Linked DNA regions of Homo sapiens: all the other regions are reported to be linked to region 1. Evidence: microRNA targets listed by miRTarBase, many of them from high-throughput screens and not tested one by one. Region 1 holds a microRNA gene; each other region holds the end of a gene's coding sequence.
The links. Region 1 holds the annotated microRNA hsa-miR-6864-3p (GUGAGACUUCUCUCCCUUCAG, at 2,792-2,812, opposite strand). A microRNA usually pairs through its seed, bases 2 to 8, with sites in the 3' UTR of a target mRNA and lowers its output. Matches are read on the target gene's strand: a 7mer-m8 pairs with bases 2 to 8, a 7mer-A1 pairs with bases 2 to 7 and ends in A, and an 8mer does both.

Region 2: miRTarBase lists YARS2 as a target of hsa-miR-6864-3p. The part of its 3' UTR that is shown has no 7-base or 8-base seed match.
Region 3: the mRNA of ST8SIA3 is a reported target of hsa-miR-6864-3p. The part of its 3' UTR that is shown has no 7-base or 8-base seed match.

The regions. Positions count from the first base shown.
Region 1 is chr17:4,966,911-4,970,996 of GRCh38, forward strand. MIR6864 (microRNA 6864) reads right to left here and starts at 2,861; the gene lies at 2,792-2,861. It overlaps SPAG7 (sperm associated antigen 7), which reads right to left and starts at 907. Exons shown (of 7, transcript NM_004890.3): 1 at 810-907. The coding sequence starts at 894. CAMTA2 (calmodulin binding transcription activator 2) reads right to left here. Exons shown (of 23, transcript NM_015099.4): 17 at 3,430-3,626; 18 at 2,992-3,175; 19 at 2,720-2,791; 20 at 2,590-2,610; 21 at 2,240-2,427; 22 at 1,997-2,071; 23 at 1,087-1,909. The coding sequence ends at 1,846. It overlaps MIR6865 (microRNA 6865), which reads right to left and starts at 3,240; the gene lies at 3,176-3,240. It also overlaps LOC124900387. RefSeq lists enhancers at 1-629, 543-1,042, 630-1,306, 1,307-1,984, 1,952-3,151 and 1 more and a silencer at 1,053-1,132.
Region 2 is chr12:32,743,963-32,748,048 of GRCh38, forward strand. It overlaps YARS2 (tyrosyl-tRNA synthetase 2), which reads right to left. Exons shown (of 5, transcript NM_001040436.3): 5 at 2,582-3,401. The coding sequence ends at 3,242. It overlaps DNM1L (dynamin 1 like), which reads left to right. Exons shown (of 20, transcript NM_012062.5): 20 at 1-1,688. Among named protein-coding and RNA genes, the nearest start is that of YARS2, 9.9 kb to the right of the region's middle.
Region 3 is chr18:57,359,478-57,363,563 of GRCh38, reverse strand. It overlaps ST8SIA3 (ST8 alpha-N-acetyl-neuraminide alpha-2,8-sialyltransferase 3), which reads right to left. Exons shown (of 4, transcript NM_015879.3): 4 at 1-3,569. The coding sequence ends at 3,287. Among named protein-coding and RNA genes, the nearest start is that of ST8SIA3, 9.0 kb to the right of the region's middle.

The DNA of each region.
Region 1 (4,086 bases):
CCGCAGGTTTGGGAGTTGGGGTCCTGCGTTCCGCCAGTATCATCCCAAGCTGCAACACGAGCAGCCCCGGGGAGGCTCCCACCGCCCTGCAGGGCCGCGCCCTACGCCGGCCGCCGAACTCCAGCCCACCCGCAGGGAAGCTACTCCGAGAACGCAGGCGGAGACAGTGGCCAATCGGACCCGGCGGGTATTCTCATCCCTCCAATCAACACTACGATCCGCCCGGGCAGCTCGGGAATTTAAGGCTACGGATGGGAAAAAGGTTGTCGGAGGGAGGCAGAAGGGACTGGGTTAAATTAAGCAGGAGGGGCAAGAACACACAGAGGACCCTGCAACCAATGGGAATTCGCAGGCTGGGGTGGTTTCGAAGGAAGGTCGAACAGGCCTGAGGAGGCAGAGCTTTAAGTTGAGATAGCCAATAGAGATGAAGGCACAGTAGATGGCGTGTCCTAAATCCAATCGAAATAGAGCTAGAGGTGAGCGGGGCAGGAATGCGGCAGGTTGGAGGCACCCTACCAATCAGACCAGGTCAGCAGCGGACAGGCGGGACGGCCGGCTAATGGGAAACAAGGACTGCGGAAGGCCAGGGTCGGGAGAAGAGGCAGGAGGCTGGCGCTATCTTTCAGGTAGCCAATCACTGTCCGCTAAGAACAGCGGGCGTGTCAGCAGCCCTTTTAGGGACTCTGAGGGTCTCGGAAGGGGCCTGTGAGGGGTCTTTCAAGGTTGAGGAGGCGGCATCGTCCAAAGAGGGAGAAGTATGGTCCCGAGAACCGGGCGAAGGAAGGCGGTTGTGAATTTGGGATCCTCACCTCGGGCCTTGCGCCGAGTCTCCTGGTCACCGAGGCTGGGTGGCTTCTCCATGGAGCTCAGGATGGAGCCCAGTAGGTCCGCCATCTTGGGAGTGACTGAGAGGGGGCGGTGCGTCTTAAAGGGAAGGGCGGAATGCCTTTAAGGCCGGAAACACGTCGGAGGCGGAAAACCCTGGGCCCGCCTGGCCTGGGCGCAGATCCCAGGCCCGCGGTGCATGGCGGCCTCCAGCTGGCCTAGGCCCCGCCCCGCCCCCGCAGACAGAGGCCGGAGGCTGGCTGGTGCAGCGATGTTTAATGGCAATTCGTATAAACCAAGCCCATGCACAAGTAGAAAGTGCCCGTGGAGCCGGCAGGAGGCCCCCGCCGCGCTAGAGAACCACAAGCCCGGCCGTGCAGCCCTCCCCGCGGCGCCTTAAATAGATTCTTCACTATACTCTGTATGTTACAGTATGTACAAGACCCCTCCCCTCGGGGGACGGGGCGGACTCCGCAACGCGTTCCTATGTACACCACCTCCCCTTCGGCCCTGAGGTCAGTGGCCAGAGTCGGGTGATGGGGTAAGACAGGGCCAGAGAGGGAGGAAACAGACGCAAACATGCGGAGTCGGGTGGGGACACGGTCAGCCCTGAAACACGAGGGGCGTGCGCAGCGAAGGCAGTGGTGGGAACCGAGGCGGATACATTCAGAGACGCGTCGAACAAATAAATAAGGCAAGTCAGGAGGGGGCCGAGTCGGGTGCAGGCAGGAGGAGCTGGGGAGCAGGGGCAGGCAGGGCTCCGGAGGTCACAGCGGAAGATGCAGGTATGTGGGGCGCGGGTTTTCTGGAGCCAGGACCAAAAGAGACGGGGCACGACCAGGAGGGACGAGGAGAGGGGTGTGGGAGCAAGGCGTGGGGAGGAGGGAGGAGGCCTACAGAGGGCTCCAACAAAGGTGAACAGGAAAGCTGCCGACAGGGGCTCCCCCTGCCCCAGAAAGCCCTCTCCCTGTTAAGACTGCACGAGGCGCCCCCAGGGTGGTGAGAAAGGCGGTGGCCAGGTCATGTGGCCAGTCCCGGCTGGGGAAGCCCTTCCAGCTCCTGGTTCTGCTTCAGTTCCCTCATCCTGCAGAGAGAAAGATAGGAGTCAGAGGAGACTGGCGGATCACGACGGGTGGCAACGCAAAAGCCCAGGGGGAGAAGGGATGAGTACCTGTGTCGGCAGCGCCGCAGGAATCTCATGATCTTCCGGGCTGCCTGGTCCTGCTTCTTGGTGAGAAAGGAGCCTCTGGTGAAAGAAACAAAAGATGGACCTCACAGAAGGCATCGCATGCCTTCGGCCCCCCCAGGAACCCTAGGCAGGGAATGGCAGTGAGGCATGATGATCAAGAGGATGAGTAAGGGGGAATGGCGTGGATGCAGTGGGTGGGCACAGAGGGCTGGGGCTGGGCCCTACTTGTTGCGGGCAGGCAGGGTGGCCGAAGTCCGGTGGGGAGGGCCGGGCCTGCGGCGGTAGGAGCGGTAGTGCTGCTGGATGAGCACAGCCGCTCGGCGGCTCTGCTGAAATCGCTTCTGTTCATAGTAGCTTCGGAACTTGCTCTGGATCAGGATGGCCGCCTGGGTCATCTTCTTATAGAGTGCAAACTGCAGGGGTGGGGAGGAGGGACAGGGGCTGAAATAGAGGGACGGAGACCCAAAGCCCTGAGGCTCACCCAAGTTAGGCTGATGCAAGACTCTCTGTAACCCACACACTCAAGGAAAGACTGAATCATCACAGACCTCACACTCAGAGCTCATGCCTAATACCTTAAGTGCAATCCAGGTCAGCTTGTGGAGAGAGAAGGGGAGTTAGGGCTCTGGCAACATTCTGGAATGGTTAGGCGTGGGTGTGGGTTGGTGGGTTGCTGGTTACACTTTTGAGGGAGAAGGGTCTCACCTGCTTGTACTTCCGGTAACAGCGCTGGATTACAGCTGCTGCTACCTCCTGCTGCTCCTTCAGCCGCCGGCCCTGAAGGGAGAGAAGTCTCACCACCTCATGACCCACATAATGGCATATCTGACTTGTCCCTTCAACTTTCCTGGGGTTCCCCTGACCCTTTACCCCATCCAAGGCCTGTCTGCACGACTACTCATCCTCCAAAAGCCCTGGGAGCCCAGTCTCCCCTGACTGGAGATTGTGTAATTCATCCTGAGACCCCTGCCCCTGACCTTGTACTTTCGGAAGGCCGTCTGGATGACTCGGGCAGCCTCATACAGTTCCCGCTGCTCGTGATCTGATAGTGTCAGCAGGGCAAAATCACTTTCCATCTTGCCACTGGTGGATGCAGAGAGAAACTCTGCCCAGGAGGGTGCTGAAGGGACAGCCAGGCGACCTCGCTCAAAGGGCAGTTCGCTGTAGGCGGTAGGGAAAGAGGGTGTCATGAAGCATCTGAAGTCCCTCCTCTGCCACCTATGGATGGCTACGAAGGAAAACCACCAGCAACTGAGTCTGGAGAGTGACTTCAGAGTTCATCAGCCAGTTCAGTTCGCTTCTCCAAGGCCCTGGGGCCTCAGCCAGAATGGAGCTTTGGCTGTGGGAAAGCCAGCTTTCTCCCTTCCTCCCATCTTCCTTTGAAGAATCTGGAGGCTTTGTCCTGAGCTAGTCACCTGGGAGGGGTTGAGCTGGGGAAATGGTCCACATTCTCCAGGTAGCTGGCCAGCCAGGACATGGTCTCACTGAGCCCCACAGCCCCTGTCCGCTCCCGCATTGAGGCTCCAGCCTCGGGCAGCCCCACGAAGTCCTCTCGTTTAATCCGCTCCGGTGTGGCTTCGATGATCTGCTTGGCTAGTGAGATCATGTCCACCTGGAAGAAGGGAGAAGCTGAGTGAGTCCTTAGGGGCCCCAGCTGCCAGCTGTAACCTCAGTCCATTCCTATCTTGTTCCTTCTCTCCCTGCCAGGTGCTGCTAACCCTGTCTTTCTGGGCCACTGTTCCAGACTCATTCATTTATACTGATGGGGCTCCCACTTGGGGGTCCCTCTGTGCTGAGATGCTATGGAGAATATAGGATAAAAAGGAGATACTCCAAGTGGGGATTCAAAGCTGAACAAATGGAGGACTTGACACCCTTTCAGGCCAACCATCCACTGTCCTACCTGGGCCTGCCCCATGCCAGCTGACCAGCACATGCTCCCCATAGGCTTGGCTGTGCCCACCCCCAGCTCCCTTTCAACTCTCCAAGAACCATTCCAACACTTGCCAACTACTACCCGGATGAATGGCTCCAGTCTGGCCTTTGCTCCAGCCCTGAAGCCTATACTCCAG
Region 2 (4,086 bases), not on the chromosome of region 1:
GAATGCACAAGAGGATCTGTGACACTGACATGGCTGTGGTGTGCATACTGTGTAGTTACATAGCCCTTCCAATTCTGGGTCCATTTGCACTAGCAAATTAAAATATGCTTTGATTCATACTTAAACCTGAAAGCAGGAATGCCTACATTAATTCCTACATTAAAAACAGCCATCTACCCTTGATTATCTAGAAAGACTTGGTAATGATGGTCAGTTCCTTTTAGATTTCAGAAAATCAAATGATGACCTAAATTTCCCTTAATTTGCAAATACAGTAGTAATTAAGGTACATCTCTAAAGTGGAGCACTTACACCAGGCTCTAAGATTCACTTTGAGGTGGAACTTAAAACCAGTGTACTGTATGTATGCATTGGTAATAGCTACTTTTGCTTCATAGCTTCATACCAACAAAATATATTTATTAGAATAGTATGAAAGTACTGGAGGAGCTGAAAGAAAAACACCCAAGGCTGGGCGTGGTGGCACACGCCTGTAATCCCAGCACTTTGGGAGGCCGAGGCAGGTGGATCACCTGAGGTTGGGAGTTGGAGACCAGCTTGACCAACATGGAGAAACCCCGTCTCTACTAAAAATACAAAATTGGCCGGGCGTGGTGGCGCATGCCTGTAATCCCAGCTACTCGGGAGGGTGAGGCAGGAGAATTGCTTGACCCTGGGAGGTGGAGGTTGTGGTGAGCTAAGATCGTGCCATTGCACTCCAGCCTTGGCAACAAGAGCGAAACTCCGTCTCAAAAAAAAAAAATAAAACAACACCCAGATAGATACACATACTCCTTCAGACTTACAGACCTAAGCTGCATTTATGGGGTAGTGATGAGGTTTAGAACATATACATATTTTGTTAAAATTCCCCAGATGATTCTTGGTATGAACGACTATATTATAAATTTTAAGATGTACTTAGAAATCCTTAAGACATCTAGCCCCGTCTCTAATAGACAACACATTTATATTGCAGATATTACTTTTTTTTCAGTTTATGACCAGGTATTTATGAAGGACTATTGGCAGGGAAAATATGAATATGTTAACTTTAGCTTATGGCATCAATTTACTAAGGAACAACAGGCTCACCAACTGATGTCAAACATAAAAACCCCCACATCAGTCTGATACGATATGGTACTACTTTGAATCTGTTACTAGTACCATCTTGACAGAGGATACATGCTCCCAAAACGTTTGTTACCACACTTAAAAATCACTGCCATCATTAAGCATCAGTTTCAAAATTATAGCCATTCATGATTTACTTTTTCCAGATGACTATCATTATTCTAGTCCTTTGAATTTGTAAGGGGAAAAAAAACAAAAACAAAAACTTACGATGCACTTTTCTCCAGCACATCAGATTTCAAATTGAAAATTAAAGACATGCTATGGTAATGCACTTGCTAGTACTACACACTTTGTACAACAAAAAACAGAGGCAAGAAACAACGGAAAGAGAAAAGCCTTCCTTTGTTGGCCCTTAAACTGAGTCAAGATCTGAAATGTAGAGATGATCTCTGACGATACCTGTATGTTCTTATTGTGTAAATAAAATTGCTGGTATGAAATGACACTAAAGTTTGTCAAAAAATGAATTCTTAACTTTTCTCCCAGAGAAAGGGAGACAAAAGGAGCTTTTTAATACCTAATCTACTTTGGAACATAACCGTATAGAGTACGAAAAATTTTACGACTTTTTTCCTACCAGATTCTGACAGTTCACCAAGGTATTATAACATCTCCATTTTTGCGTATGAAGACAGTGACTTGCTCCAAGTAATCCAGGTAGTAAATGGCTAGAATTTGAACACTAAAGCCATGCTCTGCTGCCTGTAAGGTTTTCAAAAGAAATCTGATTAATCATTTCGTATGTGATTCACTTGATCCTCAAGGCAACAGGGATGCCATTGCCTTGATTTTTCAGATATGGAAATAGTTCTGGAGAATTAATTTGCCTCATGTTTGAAGAGCTGAACTCAGTCTTGATTCCAAATCCTTTAAGTTTGACCTGAAAACTTTCCTTACCTGGATACTTTTTGATATTCTCATATGATTGCATATTTGGTATAATTGGCTTTATTTTTGGGGGGTTAACTTTTTAATTTACCTCAAGTTGCAATCTGCTTGGGGGGAAAAGCTGAAACTTAAAACCAATTTAAGTTTCTAAATTTATAAAACATTGCTACCTTAGGAATCCACTGACAACAAGGCTTAATGTGAACAGAATTATACTGGAACACAGGCAAGGAACCAGAAAACTGAATTAGAAACTTTCTGAAAAGTCACGTACTGATTTTTGTACTATTATTTGTAAAGAAACTACTTACTGTAATTTCTCAAAGCAACCATGGCCTCATCTAACTTTTTCTCCTTTTTAAGAACTACATTTGCTCTCTGAACTACAAAAAAATCAAATTTCTATTCAAAGTTTCTAATACTAGTTTTCCCATTTCTAATGTGGACACTAGAGGCCCTGATGATTTTATAAACAACTATATAACATTAGTGACATCGGTGCTCCATACCTGATAGAAAAGCAGCTACAATTCCTTTTTTTTTTTTTTTTTTTTGAGACAGAGTTTCACTCACTACTCATGCTGTCTCCCAGGCTGGAGTGCAGTGGCGTGATCTCAGCTCACTGCAACCTCCATCTCCTGGGTTCAAGTGATTCTCGCAGCTCAGCCTCTTGAGTAGCTGGGGTTACAGGTGCCTGCAACCACATCTGGCTAATTTTTATATTTTCAGTAGAGACGGGGTTTCGCCCTGTTGGCCAGGCTGGTCTCAAACTCCTGGCCTCAAGCGATTTGCCCACCTTGGCCTCCCGAAGTGCTGGGATTACAGGTGTGAGCCACCATGCCCAGCCTCACAATTCCTTACACTACCTCTTTTTCATTGTTCCTCATCACTACAAAAAGGAGAGCAGGAAGGGTAAGATAGGAAAGCAGCATTTCTTTCTCTTCTGAAGTATAATTTTAAAAAGAGATTAACCCTGAAAATCATGGTTTTCTATGGTAATCAAGCTTTGTACATCAGAAAATAAAACATCCCATTATTAAACAAATATTTATTAACCGGCCCATAAAAATAATGAAGTTACTCACACTGAGTCCTAGTCCATTCTGTTTTTCTGATTTGCATAAGCAAAGGTCTAAGTTCTGGAGCCAACCCTTCAGAGGTCTTGAGAATGAATGATGGGTAAGTTTATTTGGACAACCAGAAGGACTTTTCATCACAACTGAAGCCATTTTATAATGTAGAAATTTCTTTTTCCTATTTTAAGTAAGGAAAGTCCATTCTTGAGAATATGTTGTCCAACAATTAAAACACTCTCAGGATTTGTTACTTGTTGGTGATTTATGCTGACTCCGCCTTCTGTTATCATTCGATACCTAAAAAATAGAAACGTTTAGTAAGTAGAGAGATCCAATCACTGTTGATCTGTCCCCCAAAAAAGACTGTTTCACTTAGATTTCAGAGGCTCTCCAATTGAGAAGATTTCATTTGGCACTGGACTGTTACCTTCATGTTTGCTCTATTATTAATAGATTCTGCCTCTCTTTACTGCTCTTTGTTTTTTGTTGTTTGTTTTTGAAACACATTCTTGCTCTGTAGCCCAGGCTGGCATGATCTCAGCTCACTGCAACCTCCGCCTCCTGTGTTCTAAGTGATTCTCCTGCCTCAGCCTCCAGAGTAGCTGCGATTACAGGTGCATGCCACCACACCTGGCTAATTTTGTATTTTTAGTAGAGATGGGTTTCGCCATGTTAGCCAGGCTGGTCTCAAACTCCCAACCTCAAGTGATCCACCTGCCTTGGCCTCCCAAAGTGCTGGGATTACAGGTGTGAACCACTGTGTCTGGCCGGAATTTACGCCTTGCAATCTGCTCTTTTAAAGACTCCGTCTCAAGAAAAAAAAAGAAAGACCTAGGAGAAGTTGTTCTAGGAGCACACTGGGTAGGTGAGGGCTGAACATTTCACTGAAAAAAGAGATACTTAAACTGGGAGTGAAGCTACCTTGACAATCAGGGCAGGAAACATGGGAGCAGCTAGAAAGAGGTGAGATCTGAGAAGACAG
Region 3 (4,086 bases), not on the chromosome of region 1:
CAGCGGTTCTTCCTTTGCACATCCTTGCTGGTAGCCCCATGGCCAGGTACCTGACATCAAGGTCACAGACAGATGGCACAGTAGTCATAGTCAGCACTGCCAGGCACACAACACTACTAAACATACAGCACTTTTACAATATTCACAGACACTTAAGACACAGACACAAGGTGGAGAAATGATAGATATTTTAATAATCAAATATTGGAAAGAATTTTTGGGGTGTGGGAGGAATTCTTGACACCACCATTTAGCCCTGTCTCCCTTGGATCTGCATCTGCATATGACACTCAGAATAACCAGTGAAAACAGAGCGTCTAGCATTAAGCAGGTTGCCAAAAGTTTGTGATTATTTCCCCCCTCTGCAACTTAATTGGTTTTTTGTGTTGGTGTTATGGGTAGAAAGCCTTGGGGGCTTTATGGTAAAATGTATTCCAATAGCTGAAAGTGGACTCTGTTGTGAGTATCCTAAAAAAGGGAAAGTGTCTGACAAAAGGATAAATTAGTCTAGAACTAACAAAGCAAGGTCAATGCAAAAGCCAGGGCATGTGTCTGTAGCTGAAAGAGGAGGAAAGAGCCAATGGTCCTGAGCTGATTACTGCCCAGTTCACTGCACTTGACTACACAAGCCTGGGAGCTGCAGGAGAGCCAGCTGCCTTTCTAATTAGGACACTTGGGACACAACAACTTTTTTGGTCATAAAAGTGGTTGTATAGATTTAATCTTTGAAACAGTCTTTAAAAACAAACAGAGATTTTGCATGGTCAGCTAGAAGCTGCTATTCTTCAAAAGTGAAGGGTGATCTATTGGGATCATCTCCAGGAAGTCCTCCTTATAAGCAGAGATGAGCCTGATCTCTAAACCCCTCAAGTTCTGAAGAAAAGTCCATTTCCTCACTATTTTGAGTTTTCATTAAAGTGATAGATAACACGGTGGTGGGGGATGGGAAAGTCCTCCCACTCTAAGGTTAAGATGGAGCCAAGACTGCAAGGAGATTTAAAAAATCTCCCTGAACTTAAAAAACAAACAAAAATCCTTGGCATTATGATGAGATAAAATTTAAATTGTCCACTACAGAACAGTAAACTGTTTTTTAGAGATTCTGGTCTTTTCCTCTTTTAATCTTCTTGGTTTAAAGTGTCTATGCATTTATATTTAGTGAAAATGAATGGGCACATTGGGATTAAAACTCCAGAGTCAGAATCTGGCCCAAGTAATATTGGCATTAATATCACTTAGCTATAACCAAATGAACTAAGTGCTCAGGAACAGCCAACTAAACACTTCTGTCAGTTGTCAATCTCTCAGTGATCCCAACAGAGCACAGTGTGAGGATGGTAGTACAGTCCTCTTCAAAGGGACAGGGAACAAACACGGTGTGGTTGTGATACCCATCAAATTATACCACTGAATTACAAAATGTTTTTAATGTCTCCCCTTATAATTATATTGTAATGTGTGTCATAATTGGTAACACATTTGAACTTGGTGTTTCTTTCATTAGTTAATATCTAGATCTATGCAAGTTGCTCTAATTAGATTGCTTTCTGAAAATAATAATAAGGCAGGTTTAGGACCAGGCAGAACGTGAGCATAACGATAGTGTCTTTCCTTACCATATTCGGTTTAATTTTAGGCATGATCTTACCTTCCTAAAGAGGGGCAATGAGCTCATCACTGAACTACAGCACATTTTTTAAACAGTTATTTGTCGCATTGCAAGCAATCTAGATGAGATTTCAGGAAAAGAATGAGCTACCCCACTCAAATGCATAACAAATATGCTTGACTGGCATTTGGAAAGAAGAAAGAAACTCTTATTAAAATTTAACATCAACTTGGCCAGACGTTGGGCTGAATTGGAAGAACAAAGTGCTGCTCAGTAAAAAGCCAGGGATGGGAATGATTTGATTTCTACTCATATGGCTGAAATAAAGAAAATGAGAATGGCCAGCTACTTCCTTCATCGCAGGTCTACATAATCTTGGATTCCAACTCTTGCCACTGCACAATGGCTTTTTCTTTTGAAATGCTTAATTTGTAGTTGTATAGATCTGACTTCAGTGGAAAGAGGGAATATCCAGTGCTACAATGTTCTCAAAGAGAGCAAATGGTTCTGGATTGGTGGTGGTGCACACAATGATACGGAAAACGATCGCACCTCAGCACTAGTCACCTGGGCACCTGGCCTGGCCAAGATCCTCCTCCACTTTAACCCAGCTGGAATGGGTAACATGGTTACCACACTTTAGGGTACACAGGATTCCATAACAACTTCTAAATATTCTTCTTCCTTTTCCTTTGTGTGTCCCAGGGTCTTAAGCTGATTCATTGCCTCTATATTCTGAGAGAACACCCAGCCTAGTGCATGGGTTGGGATTATGGGAGACACTAAATTTAGGCTGGAATGGCCTTACAGATGTGGCCACAGTGCTATTATTTGCCATAACAATGCCTACATCAAGAGACGCAATGCTATCCACAACATAGGCTTTCTTTGTGATCATGAAAGATGCACTGCCTTATATCCCACTCACCACAGAGGGACCATCTTGCTGTAGAATGACTGAATGGACTGGTGAGGACTGCATCAGAGGCATTTCTTTAAAAAAGGAATCACAAGGGAGTCCATCGTGATTTGCCTATTTTGTCATGAAGCATCAAAGTTACCCAGAACCTTAAACACATCAAGTACAAATGCAACATATACAAGCAAAGCGAATTCAATAGGATTCCTAGCAAATTATTAAACTCCACGGTGGTAGGGCAGGGAGTAGTTGCAGAGGGAAGGAGTGAGATGGTGATAGAGATGGAGATAGGGAGATAGATAGAAGATGAGATATGCAAACCAGTTTTTTACGTTTCCATTTTTCAGAGTCTGATCCCACCAGCAAAACAGGTCCTGCCCCAGTTGGCCAGAGGCCTCTGATTATGAGGACTATCTGAGCAGAGCTGCAGAAACTATAGCTCTAGTCCTCATAAAAATGAGAGGCAGTTTATTATTAAAATCCAAACATGAAAATACTTCAAACCATTTCGTTAGCAGCATAGTCCCAAATGCAACATTCCCTTTATCAATCAAGTCTAAACCATGTGGCTTCAATGCATCTGTCCTGCTAAATCTGCTAAAACTCTTAAAAGAGCAGTGCAAAAGAGAAAAGACATCTTTCCTTTTAAATGGCAGACAATCCTTATAAGACATTCTCTAGGGTTCTATTCTGAAGGCTATTCAATTTGATTTGGGGCACTTTTTAAACAGCCATTTGGCGCTTTCCGTTTGGAGTTCTTAGGCACAGTGTGACAGAGTCAGCTTGGTGAGCCCTTCCCCATGCATTCGGTACAGCAGCTGAAACTCAGCAGGCAGCTGGTGGGACTCCTGCCACTTGGTGGTAAATTTGGTTCCTTTTTTGTCATAGTAATGGTATGGAAGATCTTCCCTTGTGTTGGGGTCAAATCCAAACGGCCAAAATCCATACAAGTGGATCTCTTCACATATTGCTGATGCAAGGGTGTACATAAGAATACCTGTGCTCAGCCGTTTAGGTGACAAATGTTTGTTTTTCCAGTACCTGTGGAACAATAAGTACATTTGGATTCAGAGGTCAGCGTTGAAAGTTTCAATCAGCAAGGTCTATCTGACTGGGCTGGGTAGTGGATTTGTTACTGTAACTTAAATAGTGCTTGTTTTGAAATTATATTTTAGGCAACCAAAAACAACTTCTGGGCACAACTGGTTACATAATTTGTGAGATCCAGTAAGAAATAAAAATGTGGAGTCTTGGTTCAAAAAGTATTGAAAATTTCGAGTGCAAGAGCAAAGTATTAAACCAAGTGTTGGGCCCTTCTGAGCATGGGATTTCCTGGGATCACACTGTTTGCACACCTTTGAAGCTGGCCTTTGAAGCTGCCCCTGGGTTTTTCTAAAGAGTGGTGTGGCTCTGACCCAGCGGTGACACAACAGAAGGCCACCAAAAAGAATGACTGTGCTTTTCTTACATAAAGTGTTCTTGGATAGGGTGAAGGAGGTCATTTAATCTAAGGGAAACTCCTCCGTCTCTTCCTTTCTCAAACCTAGAAATAAACCCT